3 separate regions of the Homo sapiens genome follow, and all the other regions are linked to region 2. Evidence: fine-mapped expression QTL. A gene starts in region 2. Each other region holds a variant in brackets. All regions are shown on one strand. Distances are from middle to middle.

Evidence for each region. PIP is the estimated chance that this variant, and not a neighbour inherited with it, causes the effect. A credible set is the group of variants that fine-mapping cannot tell apart.
Region 1: its variant is the best candidate, but not a certain one, in a credible set for the expression of PPM1G in blood mononuclear cells (TOPMed, PIP 0.60).
Region 3: its variant is the best candidate, but not a certain one, in a credible set for the expression of PPM1G in subcutaneous fat (GTEx, PIP 0.65).

Annotation. Positions count from the first base shown.
Region 1 is chr2:27,515,876-27,520,114 of GRCh38, forward strand. It overlaps GCKR (glucokinase regulator), which reads left to right. Exons shown (of 19, transcript NM_001486.4): 17 at 2,913-3,062. Among named protein-coding and RNA genes, the nearest start is that of SPATA31H1, 19 kb to the right of the region's middle. The variant C/G (reference allele first, on the strand shown) is at 1,662.
Region 2 is chr2:27,408,004-27,412,242 of GRCh38, forward strand. PPM1G (protein phosphatase, Mg2+/Mn2+ dependent 1G) reads right to left here and starts at 1,588. Exons shown (of 10, transcript NM_177983.3): 1 at 1,300-1,588. The coding sequence starts at 1,419. RefSeq lists silencers at 1,069-1,148, 1,169-1,218, 1,289-1,478, 1,569-1,758.
Region 3 is chr2:27,481,673-27,485,911 of GRCh38, forward strand. IFT172 (intraflagellar transport 172) reads right to left here. Exons shown (of 48, transcript NM_015662.3): 2 at 3,688-3,831; 3 at 3,346-3,458; 4 at 2,555-2,594; 5 at 2,200-2,265; 6 at 1,908-1,987; 7 at 1,617-1,704. Among named protein-coding and RNA genes, the nearest start is that of IFT172, 6.0 kb to the right of the region's middle. The variant T/C (reference allele first, on the strand shown) is at 2,101.

The DNA.
Region 1 (4,239 bases), 110 kb after region 2:
ACCTCAGCCTCCCAAGTAGCTGGGACTACAGGCACATGCCACCATGCCTGGCTAATTAAACAAAATTTTTTTTTTTTTTTTTGTAGAGACAGGTTCTTGCTATGTTGCACACGCTGGTCTCAAATCCCTGGCCTCAAGCAATCCTCCTGTCCCAGCCTCCCAAAGAGCTGGGGTTACTGGGGTGAGCCACCGTGCCTGGCTCCAATATAATTTTTTTAAGTTCATCTTTTCCTGAGTGATTTAGGATGCTATCTGTGTCACATACTCAATTTCTATGTGCATTGGTCTATTTATGGACTTTCTATTCTGTTCCACTGGTTTGTCTATTGATGTGCTGGTACCATATGTTTTAATTATGGAGGCGTTATGGTATGTTTGGTATCCAATAGGGTTTGTTCTTCATTCTTGTTTTTTTTTTTTTTTTTTTTTTTTTGAGATGGAGTCTCATTCTGTTGCCCAAGTTGGAGTTCAATGGTATGATCTCGGCTCACTGCAACCTCCGCCCCCCAGGTTCAAGTGATTCTCTTGCCTCAGCCTCCCAAGTAGCTGGGATTACAGGCACGCGCCACTACACCAGGCAAATTTTCTTTTGTATTTTTAGTAGAGATCAGGTTTCACCCTGTTGGCCAGGCTGGTCTCAAACTCCTGACTTCAAGTGATCCACTCACCTCAGCCTCCCAAAGTGCTGGGATTATAGGCGTGAGCCACTGTGCCCAGCCTATTCTTCTTTTTAAGGATTTTCCTGGCTATATCCAGGCCGATTTTTCCATGTGTACTTTAAAATGAATGTGTCGCACTCCAAATTTTGTAAAATTTAAAATATTTTTGTGTTAATGGTGTTAATGTTAATGGTATCAATGGTTAGTGGTATAACCTAGATCTAATTGACCTCTCTCCCAAAGTGCAGTCTGACACGCACCCTATAGCATCAGTACTGCATACTTACTGGCCAGTTTCATGCTGAAATTTCATGCTGTTCTTATATTTAGTGTCGTGGACATTCACTTATTAAAATGTTTTCAATATACCCTCTTCCAGGGTTTTGTGTGAACAGCTATTTCTAGAGTTCCAGAATAAAGAGGTAAAAGTAGCAGTAGCCTGTTTCCTCAGCCTGGCTAGGACCACGTGTATTAGTACCTTTTTTTTTTTTTTTTTTAATATGGAGTCTCATTCTGTCGCCAGGCTGGAGTGCAGTGGCGTGATCTAGGCTCACTGCAACCTCTGCCTCCTGGGTTCAAGTGATTCTCCTGCCTCAGCCTCCTAAGTAGCTCTGACTTACAGGTGCTTGCTACCATGCCTGGCTAATTTTTGTATTTTTAGTAGAGACGGGGTTTCACCATGTTAGCCAGGATGGTCTCAATCTCCTGACCTCATGATCCGCCCACCTTGGCCAGTACATTTTCATACTGCTCTAAAGAACTGCCCGAGACTGGGTGATTTATAAAGGAAAGAGGTTTAATTGACCCACAGTTCAGCATGGCTGGGGAGGCCTCAGGAAACTTACAATCATGGTGGAAGGTGAAGGGGAAGTAAGGCATCTTCTTCCCAAGGTGGCAGAAAGGAGAAGTGCCAAGTGAAGGGGGAACAGCCCCCTTATAAAACCATCAGATCTCATGAGAACTCACTATCCCAAGAACAGCATGGGGGAACGCCCCCTGCCC[C/G]CCATGATTCAATTACCTCCACCTGGTCTCTCTCTTGACACATGGGGATTATGGGGATTACAATTCAAGATGAGATTTGGGTGAGGACACAAAGCCTAACCATATCACCAGTTAATTAATCCCCTCAACACCTTTACTGGGCCCCAGTTTCCCTGCTAATGTGCCAATAGGTGTTATAAGTGCCCCAAGGTGGACAAGATATAAGGGCCAAAAACAAGGGGCAGTTTTATACTCGCGATACCACATGTTTGAACAATTTTTTAGTTTTCAACATGCCTTTACATAGGTTCTCTCATTCATCCAGGAGATATTTGTGGCAAAGTAGGAAATGCCCTCATCATTGAATCAGAAGACCGGGATTTAGGTCCTCATTCTCCATCTCGTTATCATATGAGCTTCTCCAAGTTAATTTACTTCTGACCTCTAGTTTCCTCATATGTAGAAATGAGGATAGGTAAACTTATTCTGTAGGGCTGTTAGAAAAATTAAATAGAATTCATTTTTCAACAAACATTTTTTTTTCCCCTGAGACATAGTCTCACTCTGTTGCCCAGGCTGGAGTGCAGTGGCACAATCTAGGCTCACTGCAACCTCCACCTCCCGGGTTCAAGTGATTCTTGTGCCTCAGCCCCCCGAGTAGCTGGGATTACAGGTGTATGCCACCACTCCTAGCTAATTTTTGTGTATTTAGTAGAGACAGCATTTCATCATGTTGGCTAGGCTTGTTGAGAACTCCTGACCTCAGGTGATCCCCCAACCTTGGCCTCCCAAAGTGGTGGGATTACAGGAGTGAGCCACTGTGCCCGGCCTCAACAAATGTATTGATCAGCAAATATGTGTCAGTCATGGTCTAAAAAACTGGGGCCCTGGAGCAGAATAAGTCACCATCTCTGCCCTTTCAAGAAGCCTGTGGTTTAGTGGAATGAATCCCACTCCTCCTGTCTGATACCCGGGGAGAAAAAGGAACAATTCAGCAGGATCAAAATTCTAATATGGAAGGACTCAGAGAACATGTCTGTCTACCTAGGGGTCAAAAACACAAATGGGTGAAGCTACCAGGTTTGCCTGAGACAATCCTGGTTTACATCTATTGCCCTAACATTTAAACGCTGGGCTGCTCAAACAAATCATGTTTGCATTTTGGTCCCTGGTTCTTGACAGTTGGTTTCCTGTCTGATAACAGGGCCCTGTTCACTCTGCTGCTTTTCTGTCCTCTAATTTTTGACACCCCCATGTGTCTGCCCTTTTCAGAAGTTCCAGCGTGAGCTAAGCACCAAATGGGTGCTGAATACAGTGAGTACAGGTGCTCATGTGCTTCTTGGTAAGATCCTACAAAACCACATGTTGGACCTTCGGATTAGCAACTCCAAGCTCTTCTGGCGGGCGCTGGCCATGCTGCAGGTAGGGATATGATGGGGCAGGGTTGGGTGGGACCTGGCCTCAATGCTTAGGCTGCCAGAGGAGGGCATTTTGTAGAGATATGGAAATGTGCAAGGGTACAGGCTGCCTTTTCTGTGTGCTTCTGCTCCTCCTATTAGGTGCATCTTCCCCTTAAGGAGTGTGTGTGCACACATGGGTGTGTTTGTGAAATTGTAATTATTAGGCAAGACTCTTTCAGTTACAAACGTGATGGAAAACGAGTTTATACTGGTTTAAGCTAAACAAAGAAAATGGTGGCTGATATAACTGAACAATCTTAGGGCAGCTGAATCTAATGTGTTCCAGAACTTTCCACCCTTAACTCTGTTTTCCCCTGTGTTGCTCTCATTCTTTTTTTTTTTTTGAGATGGGGTCTTGCTCTATCGCCCAGGCTGGAGTATAGCGGTGCTATTTCAGCTCAGTGCAACCTCCGCCTCTGAGGTTCCATTGATTCTCCTGCCTCAGCCTCCCGAGTAGCTGGGATTACAGGCACCCCCCACCATGCCCAGCTAATTTTATATTTTTTAGCAGAGACAGGGTTTTGCCATGTTGGCCAGGCTGGTCTCGAACTCCTGACCTCAGGTGATCCACCTGCCTCAGCCTCCTAAAGTGCTGGGATTACAGGCGTGAGTCACTGCACCCGGCCGTTGCTCTCATTCTTAGGCAAGTTTTTTCCATTAGGTGGCAAACTGGCCACCAGTAGTGCCAGCCTGACAATTTACGTAGCAACACTAGTGGGCAAAGAGCTTGCCTGTCCTGTGGTTCTTGCAAATGCCTGGTTGGGGGCTCTTGCTTGGGACACATGCATGTCCCTGAAGCAATCACTGTTCTCCAGAGCAAGGGATGCTCTGCCCAGTCTGGATCATGTGCTTTCCCTTCAGGATGGTGGTGGAAGAAGGGCTGGGAGGTGAGCCTCAATCCAACCTCATTACCTGAGCATGGGGAAGCGATAGATCCTCAGAGGAAAACCAAGGTGCTGATACCAGAAGGAGTGGATGTTGAGCAGACGGCACAACAGATGGTCATGAAAATGGGGTCGCCAGATTCGGCAAATAAAAATACAGGACGCCCAGTTAAATTTGAATTTCAGATAAATATGGAATAATTTTTCCATCAAGTATGCCCTATGCAATATTTGAGATATTTTTGATTTTTTTCA
Region 2 (4,239 bases):
GCCATTGCATTCCAGCCTGGGCAACAAGAGCGAAATTCTGTCTCAAAAAAAAAAAAAGGGAGCCAAAGCAGATGAGATGAACTATAGGATACACTCCAATCCTGAAATTTTATACCTAATTATAAAATTGTTATTAAGGTCAGTTATGAATATAAAATTTGAATCGGAAAACAAAACATTTAAGTTCATACTGTCATTCCAGAGCTAACCACAGGGAGGAGCGAGGGATCTGAAACAATTCCCAAGGGAGACAGTATTTCGCTGTTACCTGAAGCCCACCCGGTAGGTGGAGAAACCCTCAATACCAGACAGAGTATTTCCCTGGCCCTTTTGCCTAGACTTCAGAATGCTCTTCACAAAGCCACGGTTAACCCGTCTTCCTCCCTTTCCTCCCTACCGCAGTTTTCCCTCTTCTCTTTTGTAGTTTCACATCAAGTTTTACCTAATACTACTACTTTCCCCCCAATATTTTTCTTTTCCCCTTTTGTCCAGAGTAAAATTTTCTAGAAAAGCCCTTTGTAGGTAGGTTGTGATGAAAAAAATTGATGAAATGACTTACAATCAAAGAAACTATAAACTACAATTACAGGCAAATGAGAATTACTGATTAAGTTTTAGAGAAATCCTAAGAGAGAAAGAAAACGAAGCATAATAAAAAGGAAAACCTAGGGACTGACATAATTCAAGTTTTCCGAAGTTAGTAAAAGGCCCTGAAAAGAGTGCAAATGAGTGACAACTCCTGGAGGTCGGGTCCAGCCTCTGAAATTAACATGCAAGAGCCCAAGGCCAGGCAACCAAAATGTGAAACAGACTCTGCCCGGGGTTCCTTTCACTGTCAAACTCCTAGCCAAAAGAGGCTTCCCACATCAGATATTTTAAATATTAAAATTTAAAAAGTTATTCACATCTATTCACCTCTCCCTTGAAAAACAAATGAATAAATAGCCCCTATTTGCGTCTTTACTCCCACACTAAACCTCACACCGTTGATGAGCCTGGAGGGCTAGGTTGGCACGAGAGGATGGCGCCAAAGCTCGGGGAGAGGGCGGTCAGTGGGCGGAAGGTGCCTCTTCCCACATGGCCGAGCCCTCGCCGCCACTGGCCACCGGCACACGGTCCCCAAGCATCGGGAGCTCCCTCTCGGCCCTGACCCCGCGGTCTCTGTCGCCCCGCAAACGGCCGCTGCGGCCGCAGGCTCCCAATTGGGACCCTTCCCAGGGGAGGACCCCATCCCCCGCTCTCTTTCTCCGTCAGATTCCCGCCCCGCAGCGGCCAGCCTATGGGCCCCTGCCTCCTCACCTCCATGGAGACGCGCCAGCCTTGCATGGCGGAGAAGCCGTAGGGCAGCGGCAGGCGCGGGGCGCCGACCCCGTCCCCGGAGCACTTCACCGTGTTGGGCTGGGAGAGGTAGGCACCCATGGCGGCGGCTGGCCGGCGGCCTCAGGTGCAGGAAAGCTGGGCGCGACCCGTGCCGGAGCCGAAGCCCCGGGGGTGCGCGCGGCAGGAGCAGGCCCCGCGGCGCGACCGACGCAAGGTGCCGGTGAAAGGCGCGAGGCCGGCCAGGAGGCGGTAACGGGACGGGAGCTGTGAGGGAGCGGAAGCGGAAACGGCGCCGCTCCAGACCCCGCCCGGCCTGCGCGGCGGGGCCAGGCGCTGCGGGCAGTCATTTCCTTAGCAACTCGCCCCGCCCGCAGGGACAACGGCCCGCCCAACGGCCGCTCCCGCGAGACTAGCGCGACCACGCCCACCAACGGCCGCCGTCCTACTCCGCTTCCTCGCGCAGGTGGCAGGTCGCCTCTGGCAGAACCTCTTCCTTCGTTCCCAGTCCCCAGCCTCTTGGCGTTTTGTCTGACGCCTCTTTTGTGTCGGACTCGACGCTTTCAGCCCGTCCTCCAGTGTTTTCATCCCCCTCTCCCCAACGTTGCACTCTCAGACTCCGCAAACCCCGCCCGATTTGGTTCAATTAAAGTTGACCAGTATTTGTTCCGAGCTTAGGAAGTACTTGGCCAGGCCATGCGAGGCCTATATGAGAAGAATGTGAGTCTTTTCTGAAAGCGAAGACCTCGATCTGTGATATAATTCGAGTTAATACAATGTAGAAATGTTTGGTACAGCCTATTCTGGGTGGGAAAAGCTCAAGGATGGGAGGAGGAGCTGTTTCTTGGAGGATTGAAAGGATGTAGGCTCTCAGAGAGGATGCCTCTGGATTGCATTATGCCACAGGAAAAGGGAATAATGTTATAAGGTTTGGAGGAGTGAGGGAAGAATGTGAACTGCATTTGGGGAGGATTTCTGAGGAAGCTGGCTGGACTCGGAGAATGATTGTAAGTGGTAATATTAACTAGCTAGCTTGATAAAAAGAAGCGCCAAGATGAGTGACTTGGACTTCATTGTCGTCCTGGTGTAACCTTTGGCATCGTTTGTCTAGTCTTTGTATGCAGTGTACATTGGAGGGAGAGAGTCTGGGGCACTGTTGTGTTGTTGTTTTTTGTTTGTTTTTGAGACAGAGTCTCGCTCTGTCGCCCAGGCTACAAGCTCCGCCTCCCGGGTTCACGCCATTCTCCTGCCTCAGCCTCCCGAGTAGCTGGGACTACAGGCGCCCGCCACCACGCCTGGCTAATTTTTTGTATTTTTAGTAGAGACGAGGTTTCACCGTGTTAGCCAGGATGGTCTCCATCTCCTGACCTCGTGATCCGCCCGCCTCGGCCTCCCAAAGTGTTGGGATTACAGGCGTGAGCCACCGCACCCCGCCTACTATTGTTTTTTTTTTAAGACAGAGTTTCGCTCTTGTTGCCCAGGCTGCAGTGCAGTGGCGCTATCTTGGCTCACTGCAACCTCCGCCTCCCAGGTTCAAGCGATTCTCCTGCCTCAGCCTCCCGAGTAGCTAGGATTCCACGCCTGGCTAATTTTTGTATTTTTAGTAGAGACGGGGTTTCACCATGTTGGCCAGGCTGGTCTCGAACTCCTGACCTCGTGATCTACCCGCCTCAGCCTCCCAAAGTGCTGGGATTACAGGCGTGAGCCACCGCGCCTGGCCTGGGGCACTGCTACTAGTTAGAGAGCTCTTACTCTAAGCAGGAGATGAGAAGAGCTGGGAGTAAGGTGGTACCACGCAGGGTGGCAATGGGAATCCAGATGAAAGGACAAATTAGACAATAACAAATAAGACAGATTTGGTAATAAATTGCATTCAAGGGATGGAGAGAAAAGGAGAAATTCTCCAAACTATGACAAAATTGATTCTTTTCAGCCGGGCACAGTGGCTCACACTTGTAATCCCAGCACTTTGGGAGGCCAAGGGGGGGTGGTGGATCACTTGAGGCCAGAAGTTCGAGACCAGCCTGGCCAACATGTGAAACCCGTCTCTACTAAAAATACAAAAATTAGCCAGGCGTAGTGGTGCGCTCCTGTAATCCCAGCTACTTGGGAGGCTAAGGCAGGCGAATAGCTTGAACCCCAGAGGCGGAGGTTGCAGTGAACCAAGATGGCGCCACTGCACTCCACCCTGGGTGACAGAGCAACTCCGTCTCAAAAAAAAAAAAAAGATTCTTTAAAAAGATAAAACTAATCATGGCTTCTTCATGCTCTTCCGATAGTCCAAATTCCTTATAGTTTACAAGACCCTTCATGCTAATCATCCAGATTCACGTATGCCTCTCTTTAACTCTCCATTTCTCCTACAACTCTGCTTCAGCAATGTCTTTGGGTGCATCTAAAGCCATGCTTTCTCTTACACTTTTACCCATGGAGCACACCTCTCCACACCCCTCTTGACCATCACTTTCTCCAGGAAATCTCTACTATCACTATACTAGTTTGGGTCCACACTTGTTTGTCTTTCCTGATAGAATATAAGCCTTTATGAAGGCAGAAGTTCCATTAAACTTACCATTGTGTTTTCCAGCATCCCTTGCAAAGTTGTATGTGCTGAATAATATTTAAATATTTGTTGAATGAATGAATAACACCAAGATTTTGACTCTGCATAACAAAATGTGGTGGAGCCATTAACAGAAAAAGGTGCAGTTTGAGGGGATGCTAGTTTTGGGGGGAAAACAGTGGTTCAGTTTAGGGTGACAACTAATATAAAAACATTGAAAATATTAGATTGGAGTTAAGCCATGAAAGTGGAAAAGATGTTAATTAGGCTTGCAGGTTGCCAGGAACCTAGATGAGATCTCTGACCAAAGCAGTGTAGAGGGAGCATATAAAATTACTCAGCCTTGGTTGCAGTGAGCT
Region 3 (4,239 bases), 74 kb after region 2:
TGGGATTACAGGTGTGTGCCACCATACCAGGCTAATTTTTCTGTTTTTAGTAGAGATGGGGTTTCACCATGTTGGTCAGGCTGGTCTCGAACTCCTGACCTTGTGATCAGCCCGTCTCAGCCTCCCAAAGTGCTGGGATCACAGGCGTGAGCCACCACGCCCAGCATGTATTGGAAATTTTTAATATGCACCTGGTAAAGCTCCTCAGAAAAGGAGATGTGCTACACATTAACCAACACCGTCTGGGCCCACAAAGAGCATAGGGCTTCTTTTTTTAAGGAGGGTCAAATTTCAGTATTATACGAATAATTCTTCTTTTTTTTTTTTTTTAGATGGAGTCTCACTCTGTCGCCGGGGCTGCAGTGCAGTGGCGCGTTCTCACCTCACTGCAACCTCCCCTCCCGGGTTCAAGCAATTCTCCTGCCTCAGCCTTCCGAGTAGCTGGGATTCCGGGCACGTTCCACCATGCCCGGCTAATTTTTATATTTTTAGTAGAGACGGGGTTTCACCATGTTGGCCAGGCTGGTCCTGAACTCCTGACCTCAGGTCATCCACCCGCCTTGACCTCCCAAAGTGCTGGGATTACAGGAGTGAGACACTGTGCCCGGCCTATACAAGTAATTCTTTTTTTTTTTGAGATGGCATTTCACTCTTGTTGCCCAGTCTGGAGTTCAATGGCATGCGATCTTGGCTCACTGCAACCTCTGCCTCCCAGGTTCAAGCGATTCTCCTGCCTCAGCCTCCCAGAAAGCTGGGATTACAGGCATGTGCCACCACGCCCAGCTAATTTTTTTGTATTTAGTAGAGACGGGTTTCACGTCAGGCTGGTTTCCAACTCCTGACCTCAGGTGATCCACCCGCCTCGGCCTCCCAAAGTGCTGGGATTACAGGCACGGCTCACAAGTAATTCTTAATGTAAATGATTCAAACAACACACAATTATATAGAGTAAAACATGAAAGTTTCCTTTTTATCCCCCATCTTTTTCCTTTCCCCTTTCCAGAGTAAACTATTAACTCTTTTTTCTATGAATCTACATACATAAATATATATATTTTACATAAATGGGAATAATTTTCACTTTTCATTACTCTAAGAGTTTTTATTTCCCTTTGTCTCAAGGTCCCTTTCACCTAATTCATCCCTTCTTATAAGCAGTAAGCTCCAGGCTCCTAAACACAAATCCTCTCAGTGGCCACATCCAACTTTTTCTCTGTCCCTGAGTTCTCCTCTAGCTTCCTCTCTTAGTATCTCAATCCAAATGCCTTAGAAGTCCAACCTCCTCTAGGAGGGCTCCTGGAATTTCCTTATCCCCTATTCCACAGCATCTTTTTTTTTTTTTTTTTTTGAGACACGGTCTTGTTCTGTCACCCAGGCTGTAGTGCAGTGGTGCTATTTCAGCTCACTTGCAGGCTCAACCTCCTGGGCTCAAGTGATCTTTCCACTTCGGCTTCCTGAGTAGCTGGGACTACAGGCCCATGCCACCATGCCCGACTAATTTTTGTATTTATTTTTTGTTTTTTTGGTAGAGACAGGGTTTCACTGTGTTGCCCATGCTGGTCTCAAACTCCTGGACTCAAGCAATCCAAGCCTCCCACAACATTCTTTATTCATACCTGTGACTCTCCAGAGCCTTCATCATCAAAGAAATACCTAACGATGGTACCATCTGCATGACCAGAGAGAATTCCTTTCCCAGAGCAACTAAAAAAGGAGAAAGGAGAGAAATACAGGAAGAGACTATTTTATCTCACCAAGAAAGCCCCTTTCTCTGTCAAACACAACCTTGTCTGTGCTTCCTGCTACCAGTTCTCCTGCCTTTCATACTATGGTCTTGCAGTCCAGACTTCCCCACAGCATTTTCCTAACACTTCCAGACTCTAGTGATACTACTCCTCTTTACTCACTTTGTTGTCAGGGACACCACGTAAGACTCTGTCCCATAGATGGTAGATGATTTATTAGTTTTGGTGTTTGCTAAACGAACCTGAAAATGGAAAAATTGATACAAGTATGGTTAGGCTATTTTATATTTAACTAGGCCCTAAGAAAAAAAGGAAAAACTGTCCCACAAAACTGGTCCCTATGCATTCTCCCCAG[T/C]ACGCAACTTGATCCTAAGAAAGAGGATGAACCATATTCCTCTCTCCAGAACCATTATCCCTACCACCCCCTCTCTTGTGTTTCCCTTCCCTCTTTTACCTTCCCTTCAGCCAGTCCAAAGACAATGATGTATTCTGCCGGCCATTGCAGACAAGTGACAGCACTCTGCGTGGAAGGAAACAATGAAAAGGATAACCCCATCTGTGTGGGCCAGCACTTTTATAACAACTTCAACACCCCACCACACACCACCACCTCAATCTCCTATAGGGAAGGACACAGCAGGGCTCTAAGGAAGACAGCAGATGACCATGAACAGCCATGAAGCACCATCCTTGCAGTAGGAAAAGTCACATTCAGATGTTAGAAATGCAACTCCTGGCTGTATTTATAAGTAGATATACTGATATATGTTTGTTCATCCTAAGGTTCCAGGGACTGGTCTGAACTTTACCGTCTGGATGAACTTGTTGCAGATGACTTTCTTGTCACCCCTGCCAAACAAAAGAAGGGGAAACATATTAAAAACCACTTCCAGGCCGGGCGTGGTGGCTCATGCCTGTAATCCCAGCACTTTGGGAGGCCGAGGCGGGAGGATCATGAGGTCAGGAGATCGAGACCATCCTGGCTAACACAGTGAAACCCCGTCTCTACTAAAAATACAAAAAATTAGCCGGGTGTGGTGGTGGGCGCCTGTAGTCCCAGCTACTCGGGAGGCTGAGGCAGGAGAATTGCGTGAACCTGGGAGGAGGAGCTTGCAGTGAGCCACAATCGCGCCACTGCACTCCAGCCTGGGTGACAGAGTGAGACTCTATCTCAAAATAAATAAATAAATAAATACCACTTCCATAAACAAATTGCCAAAAATGATGCTGAGGGAAGAGAAGAAAGAGCAGATTTCTTCCCTGGCCCAGTAGTATTTCTGACTACTCTGTAGGAGCCCTGAAAGGAGGTATATGAGGGAGCCTAAGCAGCTTCAGAACAATAACAAAGATGTGACATCACTCTGGGCTTCCAGGATCTCACAGGGCCTCCTGTTGACCTTGGACTGTTTCCTCCAGGGATGGGATTGAAGAACACGTGGGACAGGTGAAGGCAGAAAAGCAAAAACAGACTCCAGAAAGTCTCTGCCTTCAATGGCCAAGCTTGGCTTCTCATCCCCTGTATTTCCCCTCCCCAGTGAGGCATTTCTCTTGCCTTCCCCTTCTTTCCTGGGCCATCCCATCTCCCAGTCTCTATCCTCACCAATCTTCTCCAATCTTGTAGACATAGATGATGTTGTCAGTCTGTCCTATGGCAATTTTAGTGGAATCAGGAGAAAAAGCCATGCCCTTCACCATATAGCTCTTCCTGCCATACTAAGAGTTTAAAAAAAAAAAAAGAAAGAAAAAGAAGTAATGAGTACACATGAAAGAGAAAAGAGAAAAAAAGGCATATGTGTGCTCCTAAGGGAGCTTGAGGATTTATACTGAGAAAAAGGTGGGGTATGCCATTTCCTATGCTGATGGCTAGAAGGCAGACTACGTCTTTCAAGTTGTGAGACCCCATCAATAGGTTAAATAAGGTACACATGAATACACTGTTTACCTTCATGTCAGCTGGTTTGGTGGAGAATTTATCTCTCCGTTCTCCATGTTCATCATACAGCAAGACCACTCGGTCCACTGTGCAGACAGCAAATTTGGCATTGTTCTGGGACCAAGCCATGCAGGTCACCTTTGCAGCTCCATCCTGTAGAGGCAAAGGGGTAAAAACAAACCCATGTGCTGGTCTAGAATGCCAAAAGCATTTCTAGCTTCATTAATTCTAGTGTAATACTGGTCAATTTTCTTCCTGTCACGGTTCTATCCTCAAAACAAAGAGATGCCTGTGGCCCATGCTGGTCTCCAAGGCCTTCAGATCCTGGACTGTGAGAACAACAGGCTTCTAGAGACTCATATGCAAATGCACTAAGAGGCAGGGTGCTAAGTCAACTGTATCAATGAATCCCTGCAACGGCCTCCTCGTTTCCAGGTCTGCTACTGAAATAAATTCAATTAGTCTGGTAAGTTTTGGTCATTAGCCATTCATTCAATTAATATTTTTTTAGCACCTTATTGATCAAGGCACTTGGCCAGGGGCTGAGAGAGAGACAAAAAG